4 linked regions of the Homo sapiens genome follow. The protein of the gene in region 1 purifies or fractionates together with the protein of each later gene. This does not show direct contact. Each region holds a gene or a part of one and is shown in the gene's direction. Other genes may lie near its edges. The genes, in order: FDFT1, POMT2, USP32 and CNNM1.

The links.
Region 2: the proteins of FDFT1 (region 1) and POMT2 purify together in Homo sapiens (affinity purification with mass spectrometry; 2 studies listed by BioGRID and IntAct, with this or other methods). This does not show direct contact.
Region 3: the proteins of FDFT1 (region 1) and USP32 purify together in Homo sapiens (affinity purification with mass spectrometry; 2 studies listed by BioGRID and IntAct, with this or other methods). This does not show direct contact.
Region 4: the proteins of FDFT1 (region 1) and CNNM1 purify together in Homo sapiens (affinity purification with mass spectrometry; 2 studies listed by BioGRID and IntAct, with this or other methods). This does not show direct contact.

The regions. Positions count from the first base shown.
Region 1 is NC_000008.11:11,833,724-11,839,811, forward strand, and holds the end of FDFT1 (squalene synthase), read left to right. Parts: intron 1-4,664; coding exon 4,665-4,886; 3' UTR 4,887-5,575; downstream 5,576-6,088. UniProt on the Homo sapiens protein: Catalyzes the condensation of 2 farnesyl pyrophosphate (FPP) moieties to form squalene. Proceeds in two distinct steps.
Region 2 is NC_000014.9:77,282,880-77,289,909, reverse strand, and holds part of POMT2 (protein O-mannosyl-transferase 2), read left to right. Parts: intron 1-1,078; coding exon 1,079-1,148; intron 1,149-2,638; coding exon of another isoform or gene 2,639-2,677; intron 2,678-3,087; coding exon 3,088-3,166; intron 3,167-4,277; coding exon 4,278-4,429; intron 4,430-4,868; coding exon 4,869-4,960; intron 4,961-6,036; coding exon 6,037-6,113; intron 6,114-7,030. UniProt on the Homo sapiens protein: Transfers mannosyl residues to the hydroxyl group of serine or threonine residues. Coexpression of both POMT1 and POMT2 is necessary for enzyme activity, expression of either POMT1 or POMT2 alone is insufficient.
Region 3 is NC_000017.11:60,179,106-60,186,135, reverse strand, and holds part of USP32 (ubiquitin carboxyl-terminal hydrolase 32), read left to right. Parts: intron 1-484; coding exon 485-676; intron 677-2,682; coding exon 2,683-2,971; intron 2,972-4,387; coding exon 4,388-4,812; intron 4,813-5,498; coding exon 5,499-5,591; intron 5,592-6,707; coding exon 6,708-6,881; 3' UTR 6,882-7,030. UniProt on the Homo sapiens protein: Deubiquitinase that can remove conjugated ubiquitin from target proteins, such as RAB7A and LAMTOR1.
Region 4 is NC_000010.11:99,388,348-99,394,852, forward strand, and holds the end of CNNM1 (metal transporter CNNM1), read left to right. Parts: intron 1-1,958; coding exon 1,959-2,060; intron 2,061-3,089; coding exon 3,090-3,169; 3' UTR 3,170-5,983; downstream 5,984-6,505. UniProt on the Homo sapiens protein: Probable metal transporter.

The DNA.
Region 1 (6,088 bases):
GACGGCCGAGTTGAGGAGCTGCAACAGGCGATGACTTGTAAAGCTGAAAATATTTTTTGGCCCTTGAATAAGAGGTTTGCTGACTTCTGACTTAGGGTATCAGTTGTTCTGTTATCCCAGTAAAACTCAAGGCATTAGGGGAGAAATGTTAATATTAATACTTAAGTTGATTTGATTTAGGGAAATCTTTGAAGATTTCTAAGTCTTAAGCAGTAGAACCTGTTAATGGTTTTAGTTTCAGCAGTAAGGACATTTTACAAGTAAAGTTTTAAATGAAAACATTTTGTATGAAGCCACAAGTCGTCTGGCCTCTTGCTGGTGTCCAGATATTAACACTGATCCTATTTCTCCTTGCTGACCAAGTCTGTCCTTTGTAGTAAGAAAGGAAGAAACGTTGACTCTGTCCGATCTCTGGACTTAGTGTTGTAGCGAGCATGCACCTGGAAGGGACTTGCCAGAGGACCTCCTCATGCTTCTCCAGTGCTTAGTGGGGGCTTGGAGTGCAGCCCCAGGTCTTCACGAGCAGTTGGCCACACTGCAGGGCCCTCACCCCACTCTGGAGCAGCCTCTGCTTCAAACCAGCCTGGATGCTTGTCAGCTGGGGAGAAGATCAACCTGCTATTTTGGGATAGAAATAAATGCTCAGCCAAACGGCCAGAAACCCCCATTCCCCTCTCTGCCAAAGTGAATTCCTTGGCAGGGAGAATCTTGTTCGTGTCTCTGCACACTTCCTGTGCCCTCCTGTGGTTAAGTCAGAGAATCATCCGGCTCTTTGAGCCCCAGGTGCCTAGCTGCTCAAGGATGGTCCCCAGCCAGCAGCTGCCAGGAATCACCTGGGAGCCCATTAAGACATCCAGCCCCCACCCAAACGTATCGAATCAGAATCTGCCTTTTTTTCCCAAATGATGTTTTTGCTTTAATGGAAGTTTAGATGTTCATAGACAAGAGTTTTAAATGATGATCAAGCTGATTCCATATTCGCAGTTGTAAGTAGAACTGCTGAGACGTGGAAGTACCACATGGACTCACAGAGGAGCTGCTGTATGTAGCACAGCATTGCACAAGAGCTTATTTCAGTCTAGTAAACATTTATAGGAGCCTGTGTCATTTAATCATCAAGCCTCGCACTGTGGCTCACACCTGTAATCCCAAAACTTTGGGAGGCTGAGGCAGGCAGATCACTTGAGGTAAGGAGTTCGAGACCAGCCTGGCCAATATGGCAAAACCCTGTCTCTACTAAAAATACAACATTTAGCCAGGTGTGGTGGTGCACACTTGTCATCCCAGCTATTCCGGAGCCTGAGACATGAGCATCGCTTGAACTCGGGAGGTGGAGGTTGTAGTGAGCTGAGATGGCACCACTGCACTCCAGCCTGGGCAACAGGGTGAAGGCCCTTTCTCAAACCCCTCAAGTATTTGGCTTCAACTTTATGCCGGGCATGTAGATGAAAAGTCGGCTATGACCTGTCCTTGACAAGCAGATGTAACTCCTTGATTGAGGCTAGTAGGTTTTTAAGACCTGAATAATTGAGTTTGCAGAAACCTACTGTGTGCCTTCAGGTAAATGGAGAGTGGGGTTTGGTCTAGCAACGAAGCATCTAGAAGGTCCCTTTGGCCTTACCGGCTCTGTTTTAGGTAAGTCCACGTCTGAGTACCAGTGACTGCAGCTCTTCCAGTTGTGCTGTCATGCTTATATGTTAGAAATGATCATCAAAGGACTCAAAAGTTTTGCCACTAATTGTATTACCGGGGACTGTCACAACCAAGATTTCTCTTAATTTATTCACCTTACTTATCTCCTGGAAGGGCATATTGAAGTGCTCTTGGAGTTCTCTAAAAGGGTTTTTGTTGGTTGTGTATATTCACTTGGGTGCCAGCGATTGATTCCAAATAAGTAAATCTTTTTTCCCAAAAGGATGTAAGATGGCTTATGGTTATAAGTACAACAGGCTAACAAAGTACAAGTAGATGAGAAAGTAAAATGAAGAAATAAAGTCATAGGAGCCACAGAATTAACCCAGGAATGAATAAGTGTGTAGTTTGGTGCTGATGTTATCATCCTTTATTTGTACATTGCTTGTACAGTTGCTCTGAGAAGGTAAGTCTTAAATTTTCAAAAGTGAAATGTCACCGAGCATGGTGGCTGATGCCTCTAATCTCAGCACTTTGGGAGGCTGAGGCAGGCGGATCACTTGAGGTCAGGAGTGCGAAACCAGCCTGACTTATGTGATGAAACCCTGTCTCTACTAAAAAAAAAAAAAAAAAAAAAAAATACAAAAGTTAGTTGGGCATGGTGGCAGGTGCCTGTAATCCCACCTACTTGGGAGGCTGAGGCAGGAGAATCGCATGAACCTGGGAAGTGGAGGCTGCAGTGAGCCAAGATTGCACCACTGCACTCTAGCCTGGGTGACAGAGCGAGACACCATCTTAAAAAAAAAAAAAAATCTACAATATACCAAAACCATTACTTACCTGAGAAACTATTCTCAGGGTCATTGTAGTGAATGCCTATTTTATGGCTTTTGATGGCATCAGGGCACTCAGGTCATTTACAAGAGTAGTGTGTGAGACCCTGTGTGTCACTGCCACTCATCTTGGCCTTCGGCCACTGCTGTAGCAACCAGTTTCCAAGTAGGGCTGGACCTTGCCTTCTGCTCCAGAGACCTCTCGCTTCCTGCCCTTGGGCTTCTGACGAGCTGCAGGAACTGCCTGGCACGTGGGTCCCCACAACCCAGAGGAGGTGAGGGCCACCTCTCTGCTCCTCAGGGCCACCTTTCATAAGGCTCCTTGAAGGTCCCTCAAGATCAAGCCAACTCAACACATCCTTGATAGGCCTTCCTGCCTTCTGTTTCACTTCTCCACTCGTTTCCAAATAAATGGCTGCATGCAAGCTTTTGCCTCAGGTTCTGCTTTTAGGAGGAAGGCTAAGACAAGCAGTAAAGCAACATGGGCAGGCAGAAGGATGACTTCTAATAGAATTATCTCATCACTATATATTTTACTTTATGGATGCTTGTATTGAAAAGTCTTGGCTGGGTGGAGTGGCTCACGCCTGTAATCCCAGCCCTTTGGGAGGCCGAGGTGGGTGGATCACTTGAGGTCTGGAGTTTGAGACCAGCCTGACCAACACTGGTAAAACCTTGTCTCTATTAAAAATGCAAAAATTAGCCAGGGATGCACGCTTGCTGTGTGCCAGCACAGGGCTAGGCTGGAGATAAAAAGGTGAGTAAGTAGGTGCGGTGTAGTCAGGGTGAAAACTACAGATGGTCCATTTCCACGTAAGTGGAAAGGTAAAGGTATGTACAATAGGGTGGCTCCTGGCTGAACCTGGAGCTGCAGACAGGTTTTCTAGAAGGCATAATCCTGAAGTTGAGACTTGGGGGCCTAGGTAGGAGCCAGTTGAAGGGACGTGGGAGGCGCATTCCAGAGAGAAGGAGTGGTATGAGACTGGAACAGAGGTGTGCAGCAGCATCGCATGGGCGAAACAACAGTAGACAGTTGTTCTTTTGTTTTTGTTTGTTTTTTGAGACAGGGTCTTGTTCTGTCATCCAGGCTGGAGTGCAGTGGCATGATCTCGGATCACTGCAACCTCCACCTCCCAGGCTCAAGTGATCTTCCCACCCCAGTCCCCAAGTAGCTGGGGGACCACAGGTGCATGCCACGATGCCCGGCTAATTTTTGTACATTTTGTAGAAACAGGGTTTTACTGTGTTGTCCAGGCTGGTCTTAAACGCCTGAGCTTAAGCAGTCTACGTGCCTCAGCCTCCTGAAGTGCTGGGATTCCAAACATGAGCCACTGTGCCTGGCCCGGCAACTGTTACTAGACTGTAGAGAGGGAGGTGGGCAAGGGCTGGTGACACTAGACAGGTGCAGTAGGTCTGGACCATGGGTGGCCTTGCGCTACACATTACAGAGCTCAGGCTTTTTTTCTCCAGGTGAGAGGGCTGGTGCCACTGAGGCATCAAGCAGAGGTTTGAGATCTCCTTGGTGACAGTGTAGAGCAGACAGGTAGATTTGGGAATTTAAGCTTAGACTCACGTTGGAGACTGAGATAGCTCATCTGAGAGGCACTCAGGGCCTAATCTCAGGCAGTAATTTTAGGGATGTAGGGGAAGAGATGGATTCTGCACATACTTGGGAGGCTTGTGGAGGAGTGGGGAGGGAGGCACAGGGAGGACTCCAGGGTGGTTCATACGGCTCCCTGCTTCTGTTCCTGTCCCCCTTTGTCAAGCTGTGGTCTGTACTGCGTGTTCCATCTTGTTTCTAAGCTGCTTTTGCCCAGTCTTTCCAGCATTTCCCTTTCGTCATGTTAGTCTGTGCCTGTCTACGTGAACTATGGTGACGTTTATTGGGCCTGGCACTGTGAGGTGCTGGGGATGTGAAGATCATTGTGGCTCAGCCGCTGCTCTCGAGGGCCTCTGGGTGCAGTATGCACACCTGTGCCTCCTGTTTGCTCAGGAAGACAGGCTTTGAGATGAGCTGGGGCTGACATCCCCACCTTATCATTGGGATGGCTTTGGGTAAGTTATGTTCATGTTCTCTGAGCCTCCCTTTCCTCATTGGTAAAATGGGTATAAAATACCTGCCAGTGGAGGGTTGTTGTAAGTAGCCATGGAAAATGTAAAGCACATAGCACTTATCATTTTTTCCTGTGTCTTTAACAGATTTATCATAGAATCCCCGACTCAGACCCATCTTCTAGCAAAACAAGGCAGATCATCTCCACCATCCGGACGCAGAATCTTCCCAACTGTCAGCTGATTTCCCGAAGCCACTACTCCCCCATCTACCTGTCGTTTGTCATGCTTTTGGCTGCCCTGAGCTGGCAGTACCTGACCACTCTCTCCCAGGTAACAGAAGACTATGTTCAGACTGGAGAACACTGATCCCAAATTTGTCCATAGCTGAAGTCCACCATAAAGTGGATTTACTTTTTTTCTTTAAGGATGGATGTTGTGTTCTCTTTATTTTTTTCCTACTACTTTAATCCCTAAAAGAACGCTGTGTGGCTGGGACCTTTAGGAAAGTGAAATGCAGGTGAGAAGAACCTAAACATGAAAGGAAAGGGTGCCTCATCCCAGCAACCTGTCCTTGTGGGTGATGATCACTGTGCTGCTTGTGGCTCATGGCAGAGCATTCAGTGCCACGGTTTAGGTGAAGTCGCTGCATATGTGACTGTCATGAGATCCTACTTAGTATGATCCTGGCTAGAATGATAATTAAAAGTATTTAATTTGAAGCACCATTTGAATGTTCGTAATAGTAGAAAATGATGTGAATTTTCTTTCTGTTCGGCTCCTATTTTTCTCATCATTTTGTTTTCTTTAATTGGGTTGAATGGAGTAGATAGAAATATTTATGGTTTAGGTAACAGTTAGATGTTTCCTAAGAATGCAAACTGCCTTTTCCACACAAAGGCTGGGAATAAAATTCTGGGTATTCTCGTATTCTCATTTAAAGGAGTTTAGCTTTCAGAGAGAAACAGCAGGATTGCTTTTGACCTTTTAGAAGATTGGTCTCCAGTAAAGGTGGACATTTTTGAGATTTTTATAATAAAGAATTTAATTGCTCTGCATTTGTCAAGTACAGTTCGCTTGAAAGCCTGCCTGACTGTGGAAAAGATGGAGCTCAAGAATGGAGTTGATGGCCCAGCGTGGTGGCTCATGCCTGTAATCCCAGCACTTTGGGAGGCTGAGGCGGTCGGATCACGACATTAGGGGATCGAGACCATCCTGGCTAACACGGTGAAACCCCGTCTCTACTAAAAAAAAAAAAAATTAGCCAGGCGTGGTGGCGGGTGCCTGTAGTTCCAGCTACTCGGGAGGCTGAGGCAGGAGAATGGCTTAAACCCGGGAGGCGGAGCTTGCAGTGAGCTCAGATCGCGCCACTGCACTCCAGTCTGGGCAACAGAGCGAGACTCCATCTCAAAAAAAGGAAAAAATTGTAAAAAAAAAAAAAAAAAAAAAAAAAAAAAAAAAAAAAAAATTTCCCCCAGCAGTTTTTGTTTTCTAAAGTTATCAGTTTATATATTCAGGTCTTAAGAAAGGCAAAAGCTGTCTTCAGGTGATTGGCTTGGGGGCAGAACAGT
Region 2 (7,030 bases), on another chromosome or scaffold:
TCAATTTATAGTGTGTTGGTATCTCACTGTTTGGGACAGAAATTTGCAAGGATCCATTCTGTGTTGCTATGATTACTGCCAGCTCCTTTTCCATGTCATCACCTTTCTAGATCCTGATTGGTCTTGATTTTGAGATGATACAGAAGTAGTCCTTTAATCATTTCATCATTATTCACCTCACATTTAGCAAGTTTATTGCCAGAGACAAGATACTCGCTGGCAAGATTGTCAGGGTTTATTTGATTTTGAGGAGAGTTGGGCAAGTGGTCATTTGTATGGAATTACTTTTTAGAAGGCTGTTATTACTACTAAAGTCTTACTATTTAGCTTCCCAGCTTAAGCTCCAGTGGGGGCTTCAGTGCCTCATCGGGTAAAGGCCACATTCCAGCCTGGAATATGCAGTCTGGCCACACTCGTTCATAGCCTCATCTGTTCCCACTCTCCCCCACCCCACCCACCCTTACAGTATGAAACCCATTTGCTATTCATCGAAGGAGTTTTTCTTCTTCTTTTTTTTTGGAGACAGAGTCTTGCTCTGTCACCCAGGCTGGAATGCAGTGGCGCAATCTCGGCTTACTGCAACCTCCGCCTCCCGGGTTCAAGCGATTCTCCTGCCTCAGCCTCTCGAGTAGCTGGGACTACAGGCGTGCACCACCACGCCCGGCTATTATTTGTATTTTTAGTAGAGATGGGGTTTCACCATGTTGGCCAGGCTTGTCTCGAATTCCTGGCCTCAGGTGTTCTGCCCGCCTCGGTCTCCCAAAGGGCTAGGATTACAGGCGTGAGCCACTGTGCCCGGCCAGAAGTTTTCTTCTTTCACACTTCTAGTGCCTTTCTCCTGCTTGTTCACCTGACAAAATTCTCCCTTTCCCTTAAGAGTCTTTTCGAGCATTATCTCTGGGACACCCTTCTCTAATACCCTGAAGCAATTTAGGGGTCTTTCCTCTTTGGTCTCAGAGTACCTGGTTAGTACCTCTAGCAGATACCACATGGTACTATAACTGTTTACCAGTAGGCCCTTGATTAATACTAGCCTGGTGAGTGATTTTGGATATCAATGCTTGTTTCTTTTTGGCAGATCCCCTAGACCCTTCCTTCCCAGTGGAGTTTGTAAGACATGGAGACATTATTCGACTAGAACACAAAGAGTAAGTCAATTTGCAGTTTGGATAAATAAATGGTACGGGCACCAAGGGGAGGGAGTTATTTTAAGAAGTAAACAGAAGTTAGATTTTGATGAGGCTCTGGTCAATGGAGCAAGGCCACAGTGCGAGAATGGGAGAAGCATTTTATGAAGGTGATGAAATTGCAGGCCAGCCTTTGCCTGCCTTCTGGGGACCTTTCAATTTCCCATTTCCTAGAGGAAAATTTGAGTTGCTGAAAGCTGCTGCTGCTGTTTTTTTTTGAGACAGAGTCTCACTATGTTACCCAGGCTGGCCTCAGAGTCCTGGGCTCAAGCGATCCTCCCGCTTCAGCCTCCCAAATGGTTGCTATTACAGGCATGAGCCATCACACCCAGCTCCCAAAGCTTCTTCTTAAGTGGCTGCCTTTAGAAAGACGTAGGAGTCTGTTTCTGAGAATATGGCAAGCTAGCTTATTTAACCAGTGTTCTCACTGAAAATGACTAAAAATGCTGGAATAATATAAAGACTTCTTAAGAGCATAAAAAGGCTGACAAGATATTAAAGAGTTACCAGGCCAAAGCCTAAGTGAAATGAGGAATCCAGAGAAATAAGTGAGACACTGAAGCCACTTTTGCTTTGATCCCACAATCTTGACTTTTGGCTGTCTCTTGAGAGAAGAGGTTTTAAAGTCAAACCTAGGCTCACCCAAAGTGGTAAATTTATTAAGTTATCCTTCCCCATATTTGGAACCCCCAAAGGCTTGGGGTAAGGGTAAATCTGCCCTATCCACTTATGCCCAGGTCCACTTTAGGACCCAGCTAAGTGTTGGGGGTTGGGTGGTGAACTGTCCTTAGTTCCTGAGAAGTTGGAACTACCATTTGATCCTCACATGAACTTGGAGCTCAAATTCATGTTGCCTGGGTGATCTCAGAATCTCCAAGACATGAATTTAAATGAACATGATCCTAGATTGGTCGTGTCTCCTAGGTGCATGGCTAAAAGCAAATGTAAGCCCTCTTTGGGGAAAGTCGTTGTCATTTGTTCCCATAGTTTTTTAGTGACAATAGTACACACCCAAAAGTAACAAAGCACACAAGGAAATAGGGCACTGTGTGCAAGAACAAGCTGAAACGACAGACAGCAGGAGCAGCCCCGTAAACATTTCATAGACTGGAATTATCGGATACAAATTTTTAAAAATCAGAGGTGTGTATGTGTGTGGGTATATATATATATATATAGAGAGAGAGAGAGAGAGAGAGAGAGACAGAGACAGAGAGAGAAGCAATTAGCTATGGTTTTTTTTTGAGTCAGCTGGATTTTGAATACTTAAAATTTTTATTTTATTAAATAAATTTCATTTGTCATTAATAAAAATTTATTGTAATTAAATTTTACTTTTGCAAATTTTCAGAAATTTTATAATGAACATTTATTATTTGTTCCAGATAAAAGTGAGAGTTGTTATATAAAACTAAATAAAAGCTAAATTAAACCCCTCTCATCCTCCACAGATGTCCACTTAAAAAAATCTGGCGATGGGAGCAGAAAGAGTAAGTGGCAGTGAGGAGGTTACCTAGCTCAGGCCATGCAGATTACAAGTTTTAATTTTTCCTCTCCTCAAACCTGCCTCCTAAGTCAGGCAAGCTAAGTGCTTCAAAGCTACTAAATGTGTGAAAGTCGCCCCCCACCTCCCTGCCAGCACCTAAAGTTAGCCCCTTTCTTGGCATGCCGTCCAGTGCTCCTACCATCTGTCTCTCCTGGTTTGGGCTCATCTCTTCTCCAGTTCTCAGGATATTTCTTGTGAGTAAATAGGAAACCAGTTCCTGATATGTTGGATTTAATAGTTCAGATTCTAATTTTTCTTATCCTGACAGTTGACTCTGAACATCCTTGGTAAAAGAAGAAATGTTGCACATCATCTTTCTATAGGATAATGACACTTCTCTTTTCTAACTTCTAGAACTTCCCGGAACTTGCACAGTCACTATCATGAGGCCCCCATGACCCGGAAGCACTATCAGGTCACCGGCTATGGCATAGTAAGTAAGCAACGGGGATGTGAGTAGGACGTAAAAGTTATGGGCCTTGGCTCAGGGCTGTGTGGTGGGATATCTCCTCCCCAGAATTCTGGAATGTTCCTGAGGATAAGAGGCTGCACAGGGACTCTCTTAACATTTGGGCACTTTTTGGCTAGGCCTGCTCTGGGAAAAGCAGCCTATGAAGTCTGTTTGTCTCCATCTCTCTCCTCACATAATAACCATGCCATTTACATGCTCTGATACTTAATAAATGTCAAATATGAATACTATTTGGATCTCTTTTAAAATCACATTGGACATAGAAGCCAAGGACCCACAATATGACCCCAGATGAACAACATGTATGTTTATCTTTTGCCAGATCCCAAATTCTCATTAGCTTTATTTTTAAGTATCATTTCCCTGTTCTGCAGAGGGATATTATCCATAGCTTTTGTATTTTACTACCTCAAGGAGATGCAGCTAATAAATAAAAGCTCTATGAGTACTTATGGCTTTGGGAGTAACTGAAGACAAAAACTACTAGTGGAAAACTGTATACAGATTCTGGCCTTCAGGTGGATTTCCCAGCCCTCTTTCTGTTTGCTCATTCCACATTGTGCTAGGTCAAGACTGTGAACATTCTAATCTTCTTTGTGGGCATCTTCTGAGAAGAATTAGACATACATGTCTTAATTTCCAAAGTGCAATAGCCAGGCCAGACCTTTCTGGCTTAGATGAGTGAATACCTAGATAGCCAAGGTAATGGATGCAAATGGCCCAGATCTGTTTCTGTTGGCTCAGAGTGATGTCTTGAGTTTGGTTGAAGGGCAAAGACAGGTATTTAGAACTTGAACTCTAGTTCTATGAAGTGAAGAGTTGGACTCCTGGACTTCTGGTTCCAGGAGTCATACTACTGTTTTTTGGTTGTAATAGTGAGTTTTGGGACAATGCCAATCACCTGGGATATTTCTTTGGCCTTCTTGTAACCTTGCCCATCTCTATCATTGAGCCTAATTTGGTCTTTGACCTTCATAACATGGTGGCATCTGGGTGGCCATTTCCCTTTCTGACACGTTTTCTCTAAAGTCCCCTCACTTTCTTTGTATTTTTTTCTTGGCTTTTATGGCAGAATGGAACAGGGGACTCAAATGATTTCTGGCGGATTGAGGTCGTAAACAGGAAATTTGGAAACCGGATCAAAGTGCTGAGAAGTCGAATTCGCTTCATCCATTTGGTCACAGGTTGTGTCCTGGGCTCCTCGGGAAAGGTTCTGCCCAAGTGGTAAGTCTCTAGGGTTTTGCTGTCCCAATCGAGGGTCCTGATTTTCCTTTCACTCTACAAGGAGTATGCCAGAAGCTTTTGTTTTCCTGTGTTCACCTGCTGTCTGCTTGTTCTTAGTGGCAGATGGAGGGAGAGTAGATATCAGGTGTATTATGGAGCACAGAACTCCGGGGGAGCTTCGGTGTTTTATGTGTTCTGATAGTTCAACATTTTCACATCTGGCTGGTGCTAATAACTCTCTGGGTCTATGTCTTTTTCTAAAATGGGAATACTGTATGCTAGACTATCCTAGGATAGTTGTCCAACATGGAACATGAAGAAATAATGGCCACCATGTGGAAAAGAGAAGGAGCCTGTGGATTTAAGAGCAGAAGACAGTGTCACTCTCTGGTGGATTTCACGTCTTCTGAGAGACATCTGTGACTTCTGCTTTTCACAGGGGCTGGGAGCAGTTGGAAGTTACTTGCACCCCATACCTGAAAGAAACCCTCAACTCCATCTGGAATGTGGAGGACCATATCAATCCCAAGTGTGAGTGAGGTCACTTTCTGGGCTGGCTCTGGAGGGAAGCATTTATAAGAAACCCTTATCTTAGAAAAGTAAGCGTTTGTAAACTGTGCTATCCCTTCAACTTGCTGCTGTTTGTTCCTTGTTAACACTCTCTTTCTATGAGTTGTCTGTACCTACATAGCATACTCCTTTTCCTTCTCATCCACTCCCTCCGTAAACTCCTCTCCCTAAAGTGGCCAGTGGCCATCTGCAGATCCATCTGTCTCGTCTTCCTCTGGGCTCCTCTCTCCCCTGCACCATGGGCACCTCCCCAGCCTCCAGGCTTGGAGCAAGCTGCTACTTTCCCTTTATGCCTCAGTGTAGAGTCGCTCCCCCGCCCCCCCACATATCCAGCCAATGCTTTTATAGAAAGTGACTGCCACAGCCCTGATCTGTGCCCCACATCTCTACACCCAAGCTCCAATTTGATATTTCCACTGCGTTGTCAGCTTCAACTCAATAAGTATTTGGATTCATCATCTGTTTTCCTAAACTACCCACCTCAAGCTTATGTGTGCCTTCATTTTGTTCTTCTTCCCACCTAATCTAGCCAAACCCACTAATCAACTAATTCAACAACTCTTTATCAAGTATGCCAGGAACCACATGGGGCCCTGTGGACATATTGGCGAGGAGACAGACTTGGTCCCCATCCCGACAGCAGCTGCTCCAGGCGTCCAGAATGATTTATTCCTCATTCCCAGGCCCTTCAAAGGGCCACAGTGACTCGGGGGCTGTGCAGCTGTCCCTTATGCCTAATAGGAGAGCAGCATTTGAGCCAGTACCACAGTGAAAAGCAATGGTGCTGGGAGCTGTTGGAGCACCAAGCAGGTGAAACCTTGTTGTCTATTTCCTTTGCATTTCTTAGAATGCCTGATGAGTTCTTCATACAGCTAAGTAAATGATCAAGAATTGGGCCAAGCTTTCTTCTGTCTCCTCAACAGTTGTGAACTTGTCAGCAAGGCTGCATTTGGATTCTGGTGGGAATGTGGACACCATGGACAGACTGAGGAAAGAATGTATGACAAAGGCTTTTCTCCTGCATTTTTTTCCCCTAGTGCCAAACATCAGCCTGGATGTGCTACAGCCCAGTTTTCCTGAGATCTTGCTGGAATCCCACATGGTCATGATCCGGGTATGTGTCCCCTTCTCATTTCATGGCGTCTCTAAGAGCTTTTGGGCAGCCATGAATTTGGATCACAAGTCAATGCCATGCTACAGATCCATTCCCCCTTGTGGAGGAATTTGAAAGCATCTTTACTACGGTTTTCTGTGATCCTCAAAGGCATTTCCCTCACCACAGAATGAGGATGGTGGTGATGATGGTGATACCAGTGACTGCTTGTACAGCTCATGTGCCAGGCACTACGCTAAGCACTATACTCATCTGATACTTATTACAATCATATGGAGGTTGCCATCATTCCCAGTTACAGGAGAGGGAACTGACATACAAAGAGGTCAGGGAACTTGCCCAGGGTCACACAGCTAAGTGTAAGAGGTAGATCCAGCCCTCAGAGCCAGGCTGGTAGGCTTTTAGAGTTACTGCTAGTTACCACTACACTCCTTCACCTCTAAGTGATTTGTGAATCTGCCCAAGTGGCAGAGCCCCTGAAAATCATAGTGCTCTTGGTTGAAGATCATGAGATACTGATAGTTCATTCCATCATATGAAATCAGGATCAGTTAGGATGGATAGCTAATTTGAGTGTGTTGTTTATATGCAGCATGAAATCCCAGCCACGAGCCCACTCATATTCCTGGACAGAAACTGCTTAGGCAGGGCATGATTGATTCTTTTTAAGGTTTTCTAAGACATTGTTTGCACTCTCTATCATTAGTAGCTGACAGCAGTTGTAGCATCAAAGGTTTAAGAAAAATTCAGAGAAGAAATCTTTAAATTGAGAAAATTCTACTCACTAGCTTAAATTTTCCCCTGCTGTAGTCCTGCTGTTTAGTGGAAGACCCCCTTATTCTGGCTTATGGAAAACCTGTGTTCTGCAGGAATAATGTTTAAGAATCACTATCTCAAGCCAGATATGTGATTATCAC
Region 3 (7,030 bases), on another chromosome or scaffold:
GATGTAACATTTGTGAATAAATATATAGGTGCTGTATTTGCTCAGACTCTAGTTTGGGTTGTGTTTTCTTTTCCCTTTTTTTTGAGACAGGGTCTCTCTCTGTCATCCAGGCTGGAGCGCAGTGGTGTAATCACAGTTCACTGCAACCTCTACCTCCCAGGCTCAAGCAATCCTCCTGAGTAGCTGGGACTACAGACATGTACCACAATGCCCAGCTAATTTTTAGATTTTTCTTTTACAGAGACAGGGTCTCACTCTTTTGACCAGGCTGGTTTCGAACTCCTGGACTCAAGCAATTACCCCACCTCGGCCTCCTAAAGTGCTGGGATTACAGGCATGAGCCACCATACCCAGCCAGTTGTATTTTCTTTTTCCTTATATAGAGTAAAATAAGGGTGAGTGACCAAGAGGTTGATGCATACCTAGATCACCACTTTAAATGCCTTCCCACGCACCCCTTTCCTCCTGTTCCCTCTACCTGCAGGTTGTAGATGAGCATGAGAGTGTGGAGCAGAGTCGGCGAGCGCAAGCCGAGCCCATCAACCTGGACAGCTGTCTCCGTGCTTTCACCAGTGAGGAAGAGCTAGGGGAAAATGAGATGTACTACTGTTCCAAGTGTAAGACCCACTGCTTAGCAACAAAGAAGCTGGATCTCTGGAGGCTTCCACCCATCCTGGTATGTTACAGTCCTGCCTCTGAGAGAGCAGGAATCTGGCATAAAAGAAAGAAGACATGAACAAACAGGAGGTTTTGTTATTTTTGAGAATAAGACCTTTCCTGCAGCAGTGTTTAAAACACTTTCTGTACAAGCTTTTTATGTTGAATACAGAGATGAATCTTTCTACAAATATTTTGTAGTTCTTTTTCCTAAAGAGCTTATAACCTAGAAGATCAATCATGTAGACCAGTAACTGCAATTCAGTGCAATGTGAGAACTGCCACAAGGGGTACAACGTGGTGAATTTGAACTTCAAGAGAGGTTAAACTTCTGGCTCTGTGGAGAGAGGAAGCTTAGGCTAACCCTTTGTGGACTCTAGAAGAGCAACTGAGCCTGGAGCCCCCAACACCCACTGCACATAATCATGTGGCTATGGCACACTACTGAGTTGAGTGTGTGTACACAAGCACACCAGTGCACTAGGGCCTGTGTGTTCTTTTAGATTTAATTTACTTCTGCCTTCTCCCTTCATGGATTAGGAGACTGTCCTGTTGTTTGTCAGGAGAATTTGAAGTGACAAATCTTCCTATTCATTAAGATCAGTGTAACTGTAAGGTACTGGCATATTTTAATTCAGATATTTATATGTTTTTTTTTTTTTTTTTTTTGAGACAGGGTCTCACTGTGTCACCCAGGCTGTAGTGCAGTGGTGTAATCTCAGCTCACCGCAACCTCCACCTCTCGGGCTCAAGTGATTCTCTTGCCTCAGTCTCCTGAGTAGCTGAGATTACAGGCATGCACCACTACCACCCGGCTAATTTTTGTACTTTTAGTAGATATGGGGTTTCACCATGTTGGCCAGGCTAGTCTTGAATTCCTGACCTCAGGTGATCTGCCCACCTTGGCCTCCCAAAGTGCTGGAATTACAGGCGTGAGCCACCGTGCCCAGCCATGTTTTCTTATTCTATTCATGTCTCTGTCATACTACTCTGTGAAGCTGAATGTAGGTTTTTCTTAGACCAGAACAGCTTCCCAGGGAATGATGCACAAGAAATTAATAACATTGGTTGTTAGCTAGCTCCACAGATAGGAACTAGAGGGAAGGGGCAGGCTTGGAGACAAGGTGGGTGGGGAGGAGGGGGAGACTTTTTTTTTTTTTTTTTGAGACGGAGTCTCACTCTGTCGCCCAGGCTGGAGTGCAGTGGCACCATCTCAGTTCACTGCAAGCCTCACCTCCTGGGTTCATGCCATTCTCCTGCCTCAGCCTCCTGAGTAGCTAGGACTACAGGCGCCCACCACCACGCCTGGCTAATTTTTTGTGTGTTTTTTATTTATTTATTTATTTATTTATTTTTAGTAGAGATGAGGTTTCACTGTGTTAGCCAGGATGGTCTCGATCTCCTGACCTCATGAGCCACCCGCCTTGGCCTCCCAAAGCGCGGGGTTTATAGGCGTGAGCCACTGCGCCCGGCTGACGGGTAGACCTTTTAAAAAAAATTGAGGTATAATTAGCATACAATTAAAAGCATAGATTTTTAATATCCAGTTTGATGAATTTTGACAAGTATATATTTTCATATAATCATCACATAAAACAAGCAGAGCAGTCATGTAGACCAGTAACTGCAATTCAGTGTGATGTGAGAACTGCCACAAGGGGTACAATGTGGTGAATTTGAACTTCAGGAGAGGGTGAACTTCTGGCTCTGTGGAGGGTGGAAGCTTAGGCTAAGCCTTTGTGGACTCTAGAAGAGCAACTGAGCCTGGAGGCAGTACCCACTGCGCAGTCACGTGGCTGTGCCACACTGCTGAGTTGAGTGTGTGTGCACAAGCACACCAGTGCACTGGGGCCTATGTAGAGGCCTTTATGAAACCATATTTTTGAAGTCTTTAAAAAATAATGAAGAGTAAATGTTCTGTTATATATTCCCAAACATTCACATGTATTTGACTTGTTTTTTCCATGTAAATTTTGTATCTTCAGAACCCTTTAATGCAGATGTTTTCTACCTTTACTTCTCCAGATTATTCACCTTAAGCGATTTCAATTTGTAAATGGTCGGTGGATAAAATCACAGAAAATTGTCAAATTTCCTCGGGAAAGTTTTGATCCAAGTGCTTTTTTGGTACCAAGAGACCCGGCTCTCTGCCAGCATAAACCACTCACACCCCAGGGGGATGAGCTCTCTGAGCCCAGGATTCTGGCAAGGGAGGTGAAGAAAGTGGATGCGCAGAGTTCGGCTGGGGAAGAGGACGTGCTCCTGAGCAAAAGCCCATCCTCACTCAGCGCTAACATCATCAGCAGCCCGAAAGGTGAGGCCTGGGGGCCTTATGCAGGTGCTTTCTTGGGACTCCTGTAGGCTACATATGTTTCTCTGTCTTCTGTTCTGGAACATCAGGTTGGTTGGGTGGAAAGAACCTATCTGGAATCAGACCTATCTGTATTTGAGCTATGTAAGTTTTAGCAAGAGGTTCAGCCTCCCTGAATCTATTTTCTCATCTGTAAAATGGAGATAATGCCAGGTTTACAGAGTTGAGAGTGACACATGGAGAGTAAAGCACTTCACACAGTGCCTGATATACGGTAAACAGGAATGGTAGCTGCTGTCTTGTCCCCTTATAGCAAAAGTTCTGAGGTTCCCCATCTTTCAGGGGGTCTAGAGGATCAAAACTCTTTTTTTTTTAATTTATTTTATTTTTTATTTTTTTGAGACAGGGTCTCACTCTGTCACCCAGGCTGGAGTGCAGTGGTGCAACACAGATCACAGCTCACTGCAGCCTCTACCTCCTGGGGTCAATCAATCCTCCCACCTCAGCCTCCTGAGTAGCTGGGACTACAGGCATGCACCACTGCACCTGGCTAATTTTTGTATTTTTTGTAGAGATGGTGCTTTGCCATATTTCCCAGGCTGGGCTCGAACTCCTGTGCCCAAGTGAACCTCCTGCTTCAGCCTCTTAAAGTGCTGGGATTACAGGTGTGAGCCACTGTGCCTTGCCCAAAACTATTTTCATAAAAATACTAAGACAATATGTGCCTTTTCACTTTTATTCTCTCACAAATGTACAATGGTGTGAGAGATAACATGACATGGAATAATATCGTCACTTTGACAGTGAAGTCTGTGCTAATGTATTGTACTTTTTCATTCCTTAGTTTTAATTTCTAATACGGGAAATATTGATAGATAAAATTCACATAAAAGTTCTAAAGGTTCTCAATAATTTTTAAAGGTATAAAAGGGGCTATGGGTAAGAGGCTATAACCAAAAAGTTTAAAGCCTTACAGGATTTTTGTGAGACATAGAGGTAACAATGGACAGCAACAAATTCCCAGTACCATGCCTAACAATAGGAAGTACTCAGTAAATGGTGGTCACATTTTTTGTCTAATTTTACAAAGGAGAGGAATATGTATTTGGAAAACTCCTTACTCTAATAGTTAGATTTTTTTCAACTGAATCTGACATAAATCATCTTTCTGCTATTTTCTGAGTCCCTATAATGTACTTTACATTTTGAGGACATTGTTGCTTATAGGGACTTGGCATTGAAGAAGACAAAAATGTAACTTACTGGCTACATAATAGGAACTAAAGAGTAGCCAGTCACGACTGCCCTGTCTTTACCTTTGTGTGTACAGTTGTGAAGCTAACCTCAGAGGTAGCATTTGGGGCTGGCTTACTTTGTGGCATTTGAATTTGTGAATCTTTTCTTCTGTCCTGTTCACAGGTTCTCCTTCTTCATCAAGAAAAAGTGGAACCAGCTGTCCCTCCAGCAAAAACAGCAGCCCTAATAGCAGCCCACGGACTTTGGGGAGGAGCAAAGGGAGGCTCCGGCTGCCCCAGATTGGCAGCAAAAATAAACTGTCAAGTAGTAAAGAGAACTTGGATGCCAGCAAAGAAAATGGGGCTGGGCAGATATGTGAGCTGGCTGACGCCTTGAGTCGAGGGCATGTGCTGGGGGGCAGCCAACCAGAGTTGGTCACTCCTCAGGACCATGAGGTAGCTTTGGCCAATGGATTCCTTTATGAGCATGAAGCATGTGGCAATGGCTACAGCAATGGTCAGCTTGGAAACCACAGTGAAGAAGACAGCACTGATGACCAAAGAGAAGATACTCGTATTAAGCCTATTTATAATCTATATGCAATTTCGGTAAGTGGTTTATTATATGGTTTTCAGAGAGTGGTCTGTGTTTTGTTCACTTGTCTTCATGTATTCATCAGCAAGTATTTTTTTCAGGTCCTGCTTATTTCCTAGCATTGAGCTTAGTGATAGACAAAGTTAACACAGAAATCTTGGCCTGCCCAGGTGTGGTGACTCACACCTGTAATCAATCCCAGCACTTTAGAAGGCTGAGGCAGGAGGATCACTTGAGCCCAGGAGTTTGAGACCAGCCTGGCCCCATCTCTAGAAATAATTTTAAAATGGAGCAAGGTATGGTGGCATGTGCCTGTGGTCCCAGCTACTTGGAAGGCTGAGGCAGAAGGATCACCTGAGCCCAGGAGGTCAAGTCTTTAGAGAGTTGTGATCACTCGACTGCACCCCAGCCTGGGTGATAGAGCAAGTCCCTGTCTCAAAATAATAATAATAATAATAATAATAATAATAGTAATTACAATTATAAAATGATTGTTTATCCACACAAGACTTAGAGCTTATGACTTTTGTATTTTGCTTTTTGCTTATTTTGGTTTTAGAAAAAGTTAGAGGGTTCTAAAATATTTTTTCACCTACTGATCATTTACATGATCAGTGTTCTCCTGCTCAGATCCTAGTGCTATACCCTGGCCATAGTACAGTTAACTGCTAACATACCTCCACTCTCTTATCTCTTACAGTGCCATTCAGGAATTCTGGGTGGGGGCCATTACGTCACTTATGCCAAAAACCCAAACTGCAAGTGGTACTGTTACAATGACAGCAGCTGTAAGGTAAACATTCTCAGTCTTTGAATGAAAGTTAGAAACAGAATATCAACAGAACTGGGGAACATTTGTTGAAATAATGGACTATCTCTTGAATAGGAAATAGATATTTCTGTTAGAATCAATATATAGATGCTGTCAGTATTAAAGGAACAAAAGTTATATGCAGAGTAGGGAATGAAAACATGAGTAGTGAGGAAAAATAAAGAGTTAGTTGACTGGGTGCAGTGGCTCATGCCTGTAATCCCAGCACCTTGGGAGGCTGAGGCAGGCTTAGGAGGTGGATCACTTGATGTCAGGAGTTCAAGACCAGACTGGCCAACATGGTGAAACCCCATCTCTACTAAAAATACAAAAATTAGTTGGGCGTGTTGGCGCGTGCCTCTAATCCCAGCTACTCGGGAGGCTGAGGCAGGAGAATGGCTTAAACCTGGGAGGTGGAGGTTGCAGTGAGCCAAGACTGCGCCACTGCACTCCAGCCTGGGCAACAGAGCAAGACTCTGTCTCAAGAAAAAAAAAAAACAGGAGTTAGTTAATGCAAAAACTCCTATCTTCTAGACTGTTAGAATTTGATGGGGTTGGGCCGAACACGGTGGCTCACGCCTGTAATCCCAGCACTTTGGGAGGCCAAGGCAGGCGGATCATGAGGTCAGGAGATCGAGACCATCCTGGCTAATATGGTGAAACCCCGCCTTTACTAAAAGTACAAAAAATTAGCCAGGCGTGGTGGCACGCACCTGTAGTCCCAGCTACTCGGGAGGCTGAGGCAGCAGAATCGCTTGAACCCAGGAGGCAGAGGTTGCAGTGAGCTGAGATCGCACCAGTGCACACCAGCCTGGTGACAGAGCGAGACTCCATCTCAAAAAAATAAATAAATAGAATTTGATGAGGTTTTAGGTCATTCTTTTTTGACTTGTCTATGGTCAAAATATTTTCCCCAAAGCAAACATTGGAAATAATGGGGCTCATCTTAAAGGGGCAGGTGTGAGACAGCCAAACTAGTGAGCTTATTGGAAGCAATCAGGTTTAGTAATTACAGAGGGTTGGTCTTCCCTTTCCTGGCAAGGATTTAGAGCCATAGTAGTGATGGCTTTTTGTTAAAGGTTTTTCTTGCCCTTTCAGGAACTTCACCCGGATGAAATTGACACCGACTCTGCCTACATTCTTTTCTATGAGCAGCAGGGGATAGACTATGCACAATTTCTGCCAAAGACTGATGGCAAAAAGATGGCAGACACAAGCAGTATGGATGAAGACTTTGAGTCTGATTACAAAAAGTACTGTGTGTTACAGTAAAGCTACCACTCTGGCTGCTAGACAGCTTGGCGGTGAGGGAGATGACTCCTTGTAGCTGACATTTGGCAAAAGCGTCACTGAAAGGCAAGCTAAATGTAGTTATTTTATCCTGTGGCCCTGAAGCACAAAATAAAAATTCTAATTAAAAT
Region 4 (6,505 bases), on another chromosome or scaffold:
TTTGGGCACTGGGATGGCCCAGGGAAAGCTGGCTGAGGGGAGCCCTGGGACCGCAGCCCGTGCGTTAAACCTCCGACCTCCTTACACAGCCAGGGAAAGGAAACATTTACTGAGCATCTACCATGCATCAGGCCCTGTCTGATTCATTCTCCTAGGAAAACTGTGTAGGGCAGTATTAGGAGTTGGGTTTCTGCCTGGATTCAGACCCTGGCTCCTTCGTTTAGGAGTTATGCAATTTTAGGCAAGTTATTGAACCTAAGACTCAGTTTTTTTTATCTGAATGGATAAGTATCCTTATGTTAATAGGTATAAATTATGACAGCTATCTTATAAAGTAGCTTTGAGTATAAATGAGATAACATACATAAAAGGCATATTACAGTGTTCAGTACCATGCTTTATAAATGTTACATAGCTATTATTAGGCCTACCTTACAGATTAGGAAACTGATGTCAGCCATCATTCTAACTAGCTGTGGTTTTGACCAAAGGTGTAGCCTATAAGACTTTTCCTGAGGTCTAAGACCATATCACCTCCCTCTGAGACACTGAACACTTCTGCCTTGACAGTGGTGTTGCTCTGAGCTCCCAGGGTCCCAGCAGTCTTGAGAAGCTTCTGTGTTTGCCTCACTAAGATGTATTCCCCAAGCTTTCAGTAGCCCCCTATGCCTGCACCCAAGCCAGCAGTTCCCCCACCCGACCTGTCAGACCTACTTCAGTCCATAGTATAAGACCTCTCAAGTCCAGAGCAACAACCTGAAAAAGTGCTCCAAGATTTTTAAAGTTGGCCGGGCACGGTGGCTCATGCCTGTAATCCCAGCACTTTGGGAGGCCCAGGCAGGCGGATCACCTAAGGCTAGGGGTTCGAGACCAGTCTGACCAACATGGTGAAACCCTGTCTCTACTAAAAAAAACAAAAATTAGCCGGGTGTGGTGGTGGGTGCCTGTAATCCCAGCTACTCGGAAGGCTGAGGCAGGAGAATCGCTTGAACCTGGGAAGCTGAGGTTGCAGTGAGGCGAGATGGCGCCATTGCACTCTAGCCTGGGTGACAGAGTGAGATTCCATCTCAAAAAAAAAAAAAAAAAAAAAAATTTAAAGTCAACAAGACAATATGTTTGAACTTGTGGCTGACCCAGAAAATCTGGGACATACATAGTCACTGTTCCAGGACCTGAATTTAGAACTGATGTTCCTTTTCTGCCCCCAACACCAAATCTAGTAGCTAAAGCACATAGCAAGAAAATGTAACAAAGGAATAAGAATGAAGGCGATGGAGTGGTCTTGGAGATCATCTAGTCCACCCTCGTCCTGTGACATTTGAGGACCCTGGAGGCCTAGAGAAGGGAAATAACTTGCTCAAGTCCAAAAACTGCATCAGAAGCAGGCTCAGCCTCATGGCTTCAGTGCAGTGCCATTTCCAACACACCGCTCTGCCTTAGGTTTTTATTTGCATTGGTGGTAAGGCTTGGCCCCTTCTGGGCTCTCAGATTCTGTAACTCTTTGAATTCCCATTGAGTCCTGCGGGAGAAGACAGGGGCATTGTTGTTGAACCCTGTGGCTTTCCAGGGTTTGTGCAAATATACCAAGGAGACCTCCACCTATCCTCACGTGTGCTTTTAGTCTGGCAAATAGACTGGGTGGAGAACACATTGTTCTCTAAACCCTCTCTCTTGCCAAACAGTGTTTGAGAAGAGGGAATGATTTCTGACTTTGCATGGATCGTTGGATTCCGGCTCCTGTTCTCCATCTTTTTGTTCCTTTTGTGGCACTAAAATGCCTCTTGCTAACTAATGACACCCTGTACTTCCCTGGGCGTCCCTGCCTTGTTACACCACCCTCACCTTGGCTCACGTCTTAAACTTCACTTGCTGAGGGATGTCATCACTCAGAATCACCCTCTCTTGATGCCTGAGTGTGTAGGTTGAGACAACTTGAGTTCTCTCCTTTCCTTTCTCAGCATCAGATAGTGAATGTTGTAACATCAACCTGGATACAGAGACCAGCCCCTGCAGTAGCGATTTTGAGGAAAACGTGGGCAAGAAGCTGCTGAGAACCTTGAGTGAGTAGCTAGTTCTTCACCCAAATGAGAGCCACCCTGCTGATGGTTAGTAGGAAAAGCATGTTAGCATCTTCCTCTTGGGGGAGGAGCCATGGACTCCTCTTAGAAACCCTAATGAGGTACAATTGTGGAAATCCGCAGAAGGGGTTGGGCCAGCACTGCACCCTTGATAGTTTTGGGATCTGTCCCATTCAGTTGTTTGTCCTCTAGGACAGAAGTCTGCACACCATGCCCACAGGTCAATTCTGACCTCCCTCCTTTACTTGTTTTTGTAAGTAAGGACTTATTGGATCACAGACAGATCCATTTGTTATCTATGGCAACAATGTCAGAGTCGAGTAATTGTGACAGAGACCATATGGCCCACAGGCCTCTAATATTTTCTGTCTAGTCCTTTAAAGAATTGGTGTCCAGGAGACTCAATAGAAAGAGAGCAATCTCCTCCACAGATGGAAGTCAATGGTGGAGAGAACAAGGTGAAGATATTCCTTCCTAAAAACAGACCTGGGAACAGATTGCTCTCTCATCCTTGAGGACAACTATGTAATTATGCCCACCTGCCCCACTGCAGAAGGGAGGTTGCTTCAGAGCTAGAGAACGCAGGTCCCTGGAAATGGCTTGCAGCTACAGCCACCAACCCTGATTCATGGGACATCAAAGTCTATGAGATTGGTCCTCTCTGAGGGTGTCTGGCAGTCAGAGGGGCTGGCCCCCAAGGGGCGCAGGAGGCATGGGCCTGAGGTGTTACATGGGCTTTACTCAGTCCCCTCCAGGAAGTCTCAATTCCAGGCACCAGCCTGGGTTTGTGACTTTTCAGAGATGGCATCTTATGTGGAAAGTACGTCCTAATCTTTCAAGATGTAAATATGCCAATATCAGCACCAGCATACAATGCCGGTTAGTTCTAACCAAGCTGTCAAGGGCTTTGTCTCCATTTCTGCTTCTGTTTTGAAAAGAACTCAGACTGCCAAGCAATTATGAATGTTCCTCCAGTGTTACAGGCTGATACTTGCAACTTGTTTTTTTCAGGTGGCCAAAAAAGGAAGAGGTCACCAGAAGGAGAGAGAACCTCTGAGGACAACTCCAATTTAACACCTCTGATCACATGACAGGGCAAAGCCAGCATTCACTGGGTGTGTGAAATTCCAGAGCTTTGGGGGAGAATCCACCCTCCCATCATCTGCTTCCCCCAAGGCCTCCCACAGGTGACAGAATGTTCTGCCTTCCCTTCCATCTCTTCACCCCTAGCTGTCAGTTTGGCAGATTTTCCCTCGTTACCTCCAGTTCGACTCAGAACCTTGACATGGCCATAACAGAAGGAGGTGCCTCTGATAGAACATGCTAGAAATGGTCTTTTCCACAGCATAGTCTGGGACTGGAAAAGAGATGTCTGACTGCAAGCTGACAATGCCACTCTGGGACCCCTGATGCTCTTCTTTGTTCTTTGGGTCCCCTGATGCCATAGGAGACCTATCGTCTTGGAACTTGCCATTCTTTCCTCCAGAACAAAATGTTAACTTTCTAACACATTTCATGCATAGCTTGGCTCAGAAGGTGCCATTGGCAGACAGGCACATGGGAGGCTGGAGTAGGAGGTCTGAAGATTAGTTCAGGGGATGGACCAAGAATTTCCCCCAGAGCTTTAAAGAAGTGGGACTCAGCCATGTTGGCGCGTGATTGACATTACAGCACAGAAAACTGTTAGTGACTGGTTTCCTGTTAGATAAGGGTTCCAGCAGCCTGGGGCAGTATGTCTCAGCTGGAATGGAAAGAATGTGAGATGGAACCTCAAGTCACTGTTTTTACCAGGGACACATCTGTTTTGGCTCCCAATCAGCAGTCTTCAATCGATCAATAATTCTGCTCTGGAAGAGAAGGAACAGGGAGCAGAGAGACCCAACTGGGAGCCAGAGATGGAACTTCAGGTCTTAAGTGCAAATCAAAGCAAAAAACAAACAAAACTTACATGGAAAAACTGTAAGTGCTGAAAGCAAGTTTAGCCATGACAAACCAAAGAGTGCCCAGGTCAGCCAAGAAAGATACATAATCTCATGGGACTTCAGTGGGAGTTACACAGGAATGTTGAAGAATCATTCTTCTTTTTCATGCATTTGTCCTTCTCCCACCCCCTTACTACACCCTAGCAGATCAGCTGAGTGTACTTTATTCCAAGAACTTACTGGATCTCTGGTTTTTCTCCTGAAGTTGGGGCAGGTGCAATTCCAAGCATAACCACCAGATGGCAGAGTGACCGCGCATACCTGCTTCCAAGAATAAAACAGTTCTGAAAAGCAACCGCAAAGCCGGGCGCGGTGGCTCACACCTGTAATCCCAACAGTTTGGAAGACCGAGGCGGGTGGATCACTTGAAGTCAGGAGTTTGAGACCAGCCTGGCCAACATGGTGAAACCCCATCTCTCCTGGGCATGTAGTCCCAGCTACTCGGGAGGCTGAGGCAGGAGAATCGCTTGAACCTGGGAGGCAGAGGTTGCAGTGAGCTGAGATCACACCACTGCACTTCATCCTAGGCAACAGAGCGAGACTCTGTCTCCCCCCGCAAAAAAAAAAAAGAAAGAAAGAAAGAGAAAAGAAAAGAAAAGCAACCACAGCCAGCCTTAGGGAAAACTTGGAAGTAAGTGAAATTTGTCTTCAGAATAACTATCTCCCTTTCTGATCTGTCTCCTACTCTTTAGATGTTCTCAGTCAAGTACTCACTGAACTCATTGATCGAGTGCTGTCTGCTAAATCTCCAAACCATTCCCAAACCTTTCCCCGTAGTATACCATCCAGCTTCCCTCCCCTTCCTCCAAAACCCTCCCTCCCACCTCCCCACACCCATTGAGTCATTCACAGGCAGGAGGGAGACTGATCATTCCTCTGGGTTATCTGCATCTCAAAAGAAAATGCTTACCCACAGGAACTGTTAACTCAGGGGTTCTTAACTTGGGGTCCATCACCCCAGGGGGTCCATAGTTGGACTTCAGAGGGTCTATGAAACCCCTAAAACTGTCAGTATTTAATGTATTTATTCTTGTATGTTTTTTCCAGAGCATTAAAGCTTTCATAAGGTTCTCAAAGGTCTCAGACCTACAAAGAGTTAAAACAAACAGACAAACAAAAAAAAACACTACTATTTTAAATAGTGGAACTTTCAGCCCAGCGTTTCTGCAATGCAGAGTGAAGTGGATACTGGGCAGTTCGAGACAGGTTTTTAATCATAAGTGGTCTTTTCAAATGTCCATCAATTGATGGGGAAGGCTGGCACCCACCAAGAAGTGGAAGTCCTCAGAAATTCTCGGCACACCCTAGAGTATTGTACAACCAACACCCCCACATAACTTTGTCCCCTCTTCCCCAACAACCCAGAGCAGGTGTTGCAGACAGGAGGGCCACAGCGTGTGGAAGTAAAGACTTTGGAGCTAGAGAAGCCTTTTCCAGCAATGATTATTGACTTCACCACACCCCTTGCCTGGCCTGGCCTGAGGCTCAGCAGTGCATGACTTCTCGTAGATAACTTCACAGTCATCCAGTCCCAACACCTGCTCTTGCCTGGTAGGAACAGGCGAAGTGTCAGCCCTCAATGTTGGGTACTTAGACCCAAACCAATAAATGGTGAGTTTTGAACAAGAACTACCATCATGCAGGCTTCTTGCCCAGCTGACCACTGGCCCCGGGGTGCCTGCCTGGCTGGTCTTCATCACCTGAGGCCACCAGGCTCAAGCCACTGCTGTTGCATTACACCCATCCCTTTGCAAAATCCCTATGGAGCCTGTCACCACTCCCCTCCCTATATACCCCCACCCCACAAAGATTTTCTTCAGGTTAAAAAAAAAGTTTAAAAAAAAGATTTTAAAATAAAGCATTTATGAAGGCTTAATAAATTGTAAATAATTTTTAAATAAAATGAAAATGCCTTTCCTGGAATGTGGCTGTTTTCCTTGCCCCTGGAATCTTCTGACGTGGCTTCATTTGAGATGCAGGTTGAGTGATGCCCACGTGTGATGATCTCACCTGTGCACCACCTGCCTGAAGAGGCATGCCGCTCCGGGCCAGGTGTGAGGCTGCGGTGAGGTCACGGGGAAGCCTTGGCACACTACTTTGGGAGGCCAGATGGTAAGATTTTGCAGGAGTGAATGCCAGAAATGAGAAGTAAAACCCAAATGAGAAGCCAGTATGCATAAAGACGAGGAAGGAACTAAGACGACAGTGAGAAGGGCTGGCATTTGCTGAACCCATGTGATGGGTGAGGTGCTGTGCTGGGTGCCGTCCAAATTCAGGGTCTTGGGGGCTAAACCCAGACAAGCCCCTGAGACAGAATGTTGGTCACACTAGCTCGCTTCTGCAGAACCTTCAGAAAGGAGTCCAAGTGGCATGACTCTGGCAGTTTGCAACCAAAGGCTAGGGAACGGAACACAAGAATGGGCCAGGCCTGTTGGTCAGTTTTAA